Homo sapiens: one gene and its partner. The protein of the gene in region 2 purifies or fractionates together with the protein of the main gene of each other region. This does not show direct contact. Each region holds a gene or a part of one and is shown on either strand. Other genes may lie near its edges.

The links. The genes of interacting proteins can lie anywhere in the genome.
Region 1: the proteins of G6PD (region 2) and LRPAP1 fractionate together in Homo sapiens (co-fractionation; one large-scale study listed by BioGRID). This does not show direct contact.

What each region holds. Positions count from the first base shown.
Region 1 is NC_000004.12:3,505,768-3,508,422, forward strand, and holds part of LRPAP1 (alpha-2-macroglobulin receptor-associated protein precursor), read right to left. Parts: 3' UTR 1-2,655. UniProt on the Homo sapiens protein: Molecular chaperone for LDL receptor-related proteins that may regulate their ligand binding activity along the secretory pathway.
Region 2 is NC_000023.11:154,536,847-154,540,346, forward strand, and holds part of G6PD (glucose-6-phosphate 1-dehydrogenase), read right to left. Parts: intron 1-3,500. UniProt on the Homo sapiens protein: Catalyzes the rate-limiting step of the oxidative pentose-phosphate pathway, which represents a route for the dissimilation of carbohydrates besides glycolysis.

The DNA.
Region 1 (2,655 bases), on a different chromosome or scaffold from region 2:
CTGGATTACAACTCGGCAAGATGCTGGGGAGGTTTCTGTTAGGGTGGAGCTGGAAGCCATCAAGTTCCTGGGTAGAGATGACCTTTCAGATGGATGCTGACCCAGCAGGCTGGGCTGAGCTGGGACCAGCTCTTCCACTGCCCTGCTCCGAGCCTGCTCTGGTCAAGGTGGGCAATGCTGCCCTTCATGTACTTCCAGCCCCGGAGGAGCTGAACCTAGAGATACCTGGAAACCCAGCTTAGGGAAGTAAAAAAAAAATCACTGCATCTCATAATTATTGAGATATTTTTAAATTTTCAAGCTTTTTTTTTTTGAGACAGAGTCTTGCTCTGTTATCCATGCTGGAGAGCAATGGCACGATTTTGGCTCACTGCAAACTCTGTCTCCCAGCTTCAAGTGATTCTCGTGCCTTAGGCTCCCGAGTAGCTGGGATTATAGGCAGATGCTGCCACCACTCCTGGTTAATTTTTGTATTTTTAGTAGAGATGGGATTTTGTGATGTTGGCCAGGCTGGTCTCAAACTCCTGGCCTCAAGTGATCTGCCCGCCTCAGCCTCCCAAAGTGCTGGGATTCCAGGCGGGAGCCACCCACACTTGGCTCAAGCTGGGTTTTTTTTTTTTTTTGAGGCGAAGTCTTGCTCTTGTCCCCAGGCCGGAGTGCAATGGCGCGATCTCGGCTCACTGCAACCTCTGCCTCCCAGGTTCAAGCCATTCTCCTGCCTCAGCCTCCCAAGTAGCTGGGATTACAGGTGCCTGCCACCATGCCTGGCTAATTTTTTATTTTTAGTAGAGATGGGGTTTCACCATGTTGGCCAGGCTGGTCTCAAACTCCTGACCTCACGTGATCCGCCCACCTCCACCTCCCAAAGTGCTGGGATTCCAGGCATGAGCCACCGCACCCGGCCGGCTCGAGCTGTTTTTAAGAGGATATATCCTGGTTTGCTGCTGTGTAGTTTCCCCAAAGTCTCAATTTGATGAGAAAATAGAAAGACCACTAGAACGGAAAAATAAAAAATAAAAATTAGATTTCATCAAACTGGAAACCTTTGCTTTCCAAAAGATAACCATTAAGAAAGTAAAATAGCAAGCCAGAGGATCGGAAATTATTCACAACACATATCTGAGGAAGGACTCACACCTAGACCTGGGAATAACGCTAAGACCAGGCTGGGTGTGGCGGCTCCCGCCACCTGTAATCCTGGCACTCCGCGAGGTGGAGGCAGGTGAATCACTTGAGACCAGGACTCCGAGACCAGCCTGGGCAACACAGCGAGACCCAGTCTCTATAAAAAAAACCTTTTCTTTAAATTAGCAGAGCATAGTGATGCATGCCTGTAGTCCCAGCTACTCAGAAGACCGAGGTGGGAGGCTCGCTTGAGCCCAGGAGTTTGAGGTTGCAGTGAGCTATGATCGCACCACTGCACTCCAAGCCTGTGCGAGAAAGATCCTGACTCAAAAAAAAAGACAAGATTTCCAAGACCCAGTTTTTTAAATAGGCAAAAGAATTAAGTAGGCCCTTCCCAAAGACGCCACCCAAATGGCCAAGAGCAGACAAAAAGGTGTCATGCCTCTGGCACCAGGGAAGTGCAAGTTACTACAAAACGAAAACAAAAGAATCAAATGGATTTAATTGTCTTTTTGTTACTGATTTCCTCCTCAATTGCACTCTGGCCAAAGAATGTGATTTGTATTATTTACCTACATATCATATATTTATACATTATCATCTGCGAATTACTGACATTTGCTTTGGGTCCTAGTACCTCGTCCATTTTTAAAAGATTCCATGCGTGCTTAAGAATGTTTTCTCTAATGGGCATAAGTAGACCAAGTTTTTAACTGTATTATCCCATTCTTTCATATTCTTCATCAATGATCTAAGCCTCTATCAAAAGAACCTAAAACAAGGACAGCAAATTGAACACAAAATAGGTAGAAGAAAGGAAATTCATAAGAAAAGAGCAAAAGTCAATGAAAAAGAAAACAATAGAAAAAAAAAATCAATGGACCCAAAAGTAGGTTTCTTTGGGGAAAATATCTGTAAAAATGATAAACTCTTAGCTAGTCTGATCAGGGGGAAAAGAAAACACAAATGGCCCAGAGCAGGAATGAGAATGGACATCACTGCACAGAGGATACTGTGAATGATTTATGTAAATTGTTTTGATAACTTAGATGAAATTCTGCGACAAACCTATCTTTAAAAAAATGACAAAGGAAGAAACAGAAAATCCAAAAGCCTCATGTCTTTTTTTTTGAGACAGAGCCTCGCTCTGTTGCCCAGGCTGGAGTGCAGTGGTGTGATCTCAGCTCACTGCAACCTCCACCTCCTGAGTTCAAGTGATTCTCCTGCCTCAGCCTCCAGAGTAGCTGGGATTACAGGCATGCACCACCACACCCTGCTAATTTTTATATTTTTAATGGAGACGGGGTTTCACCATGTTGACTAGGTTGGTCTCAAACTCCTGACCTCAGGTGATCCATCCACGTTGGCCTCCCAAAGTGCTGGGATTACAAGCGTGAGCCACCATGCCAGGCCTCATGTCTATTTTTAAAAATCAAGTTCTTAATGAAAAACCTAAGCAAAAAGAAAATGGCAGGCATAGATGGCCTCACCCATCACATCTCTATGAAACAAATAATGCCAATCCTATAC
Region 2 (3,500 bases):
AAAAGATAGAACTGCAAGCCAAATTACCAGGAAGAAAATAGGAAATAATGACAAGTAAAATTAATAAAATTAAAAGCTAACCCAAAGAAAAGATGAACAAAGCTGGAAATTGGTGTTTGAAAAAGACGAATAGAAACAGACAACCCCCTGGCATGGTTGCTTTTTTAAAAGGGCATAGGCCGGGCACAGTGGCTTACTCCTGTAATCCCAGCACTTTGAGAGGCCGAGGCAGGCGGATCAAGAGGTCAGGAGATCGAGACCATCCTGGCTGACACGGTGAAACCCCGCCTCTACCAAAAATACAAAAAATTAGCCAGGCGTGGTGGCGGGTGTCTGTAGTCCCAGCTACTCGGAAGGCTGAGGTAGGAGAATCACTTGAACCCGGGAGATGGAGGTTGCAGTGAGCCAAGATTGCACCATTGCACCCCAGCCTGGGCGACAAGAGTGAAACTCCGTCTCAAAAAACAAAAAACAAAAAAACAACTAAACAGCTGGACGCGGTGGCTCAAGCCTATAATCCCAGCACTTTGGAAGGCCGAGGCGGATGGATTACCTGAGTTCGGGAGTTCAAGACCAGCCTGACCAACATGGAGAAACCGTTTCTACTAAAAATACAAAATTGGCTGGGCATGGTGGCCCATGCCTGTAATCCCAGCTACTCAGGAGGCTGAGGCAGGAGAATCGCTTGAACCTGGGAGGCGGAGGTTGCAGTGAGCCAAGATCAAGCCACTGCACTCCAGCCTGGGCTACAAAAGCGAAACTCCGTCTCAAACAAACAAAAAACAGAGCAATGGACCTGAGAGGGGACAGTGGCCACAAATCTTCCTACAGAAACAACCCCCTGGCATAGAGAGTGTTGCCAGTGGGTTCTACCAAAATGCAAGCACAAGAGAATTCCAGCCTGAAGCAAACTCTTCCTGCAGAAGGAAGAAAGGGGAACACTTCCCAAGCCACCTTATGGGGCCTACAGAGCCTTGGTACGGAAACCTGATGAGAAAGGCACATGGGAAAACCCATACGCCTCATTCACACACACATGCAGATGCAGAAATCCCACACGAAATATCAGCAGGCCGGGCACAACTCACACACCCCAGCACTTTGGGAGACCAAGGTGGGAGGAAGATTGCTTGAAATCAGGAGGTTTTTTTTTTTTTTTTTTTTTAAAGACATGGTCTCACTCTGTCACCTAGGCTGGAGTGCAGTGGCACGATCTCAGTTCACTGCAACCTCTGCCTCTGGGCTCAAGCAATCCTCCCACCTCAGCCTCTGGAGTAGCTGGGACTACAGGTACATGCCAACACACCCAGCTAATTTTTTGTATTTTTTGTAGAGACAGGGTTTCCCCATGTTGTCCAGGCTGCTCTTGAACTCCTGGGCTCAAGTGATCTGCCCGCCTCAGCCTCCCAAAGTGTTGGGATTACAGGCGTGAGCCACGACGACCCACTGACCCTGTCTCTTTAAAAAAAAAGAAGAAAACATCAGCAAACCAAATCCTGCAATGTTAAAAACGGTAGGTTTTTTATTTACAGAATAAATACATCTGTAAATAAAAAGTTGGTTTGATATTAACAGAAAAAAATCATTGAAATTCACCATATTAAGAGATTAAAAAAAACCTCTAAGAACTCTCTGCCTACTGCTATGTTTTGATTTTTTAAATCTAGCAATCTTGCTCAACCCAACAGATGTAGATCAAGTGTTTCAGAAATCACCTATTCACGCTAAAACTCTTAGCAGAGGGGGAATGCAAGGGAACTTCACTAACTTGATAAAGGGCATCTATAAAACACCATTCTGGCTGGGCGTGGTGGCTCAAGCCTGTAATCCCAGCACTTTGGGAGGCCGAGGCGGGGAATCGCTTGAGGTCAGGAGTTTGAGACCAGCCTGACCAACATGGTGAAACCCCATTTCTACTAAAAATACAAAACTTAGCTGAACATGGTGGTGTATGCCTGTAATCCCAGCTATTCAGGAGACTGAGGCAGGAGAATCGCTTGAACCAGGAGGGAGAGACTGGAGTGAGCCGAGATCACACCACTGTAGCCTGAGCAACAGAGCTAGACGTCGTCTCAAAAAAAAAAACCACCACCAAAAAACAAAGAACAAAAAAACCCCCAAACCATCATCCTTACAAATACTACAAATATCACACTTATAGGAAATGCTGAAATATTAATCATCCCTTTAAGCAATCAGGAACAAGAAAAGTGCAGTAAGGCAAGAAAATGAAAATGGCTGAAGTTGAGCTGTGAGGTGGTGCGGGTGCTCCCTCTGATCAAGTGAAACACACACCTATCCTGTGACCTGGCCGTTCCACCCCAAGAGAAATGAAAGTGCAAGTCCACACAAAGACCTGCACACGAATGGTCACAGCAGCCTTGGTTCATAGCGGCCCCAAACTGGAAACAAGTCAAACACTTGAATTAACATGTGACCCGGCAAACTGTGCATTCATACAACGGATACTACTCAGCAACACTGGGAAATCTCAGCATCAGAGATGCAACCCATTGTGACAGAAATCAGATCAGCGGTTGCCTGGAGCAGGGCAGATTGGCTGGGAATGGGTACCCAGGAACTTTCTGGGGAGATGACGATGGCCTTTATTGTGATGAGGGTGTACAGCCAATTGTACAGTTAAGATTTGCGCACCAACAAAAGACGGCGAGAAAACCAACAATGGAGCGGAGGGTGGGGAGTGGGTCAGAAATGACCCTTTGAGGGCCAGTGACTGTGAGAGCCCCAGGTGAGGGGGCTTCCTGGGTGCAGAGCATATTCTGTTTCTTGATCTAGGAGCAGTTTCTGTGGCTGTGCTGAGTTTGTGAAAAGTCATCAACAAGCTAGACCTGCACCATCTGTGTTCTTCATGACATGTATTTCTTTTTTTTTTTGAGACGGAGTCTCACTCTGTCGGCCAGGCTGGAGTGCAGTGGCGTGATCTTGGCTCACTGAAATCTCCACCTCCTGGGTTCAAGCCATTCTCCTGCCTCAGCCTCCTGAGTAGCTGGGACTCCAGGCACCTGCCACCACGCCCGGCTAATTTTTGTATTTTTACTAGAGATGGGGTTTCGCCATGTTGGCCAGGCTGGCCTCAAACTCCTGACCTTGTGATCCACCTGCCGTGGCCTCCCAAAGTGCTGGCATTACAGGCGTGAGCCACCGTGGCCGGCCCATGACATATATTTCAATAAAACATGGTAAAAACTAATAGTCTGGGCGTGGTGGCTCATGCCTGTAACCCCAGCACTTTGGGAGGCTGAGGAGGGTGGATCACCTGAGGTCAGGAGTTCGAGACCAGCCTGGCAAACATGGTGAAACCCCGTCTCTACTAAAAATACAGGCCAGGCGCGGTGGCTCATGCCTGTAATCCTAGCACTTTGGGAGGTTGAGGTGGGTGGATCACGAGGTCAGGAGATTGAGACCATCCTGGCCAACATGGTGAGACCCCGTTTCTACTAAAATACAAAAAATTAGCTGGATGTGGTGGTGCGCGCCTG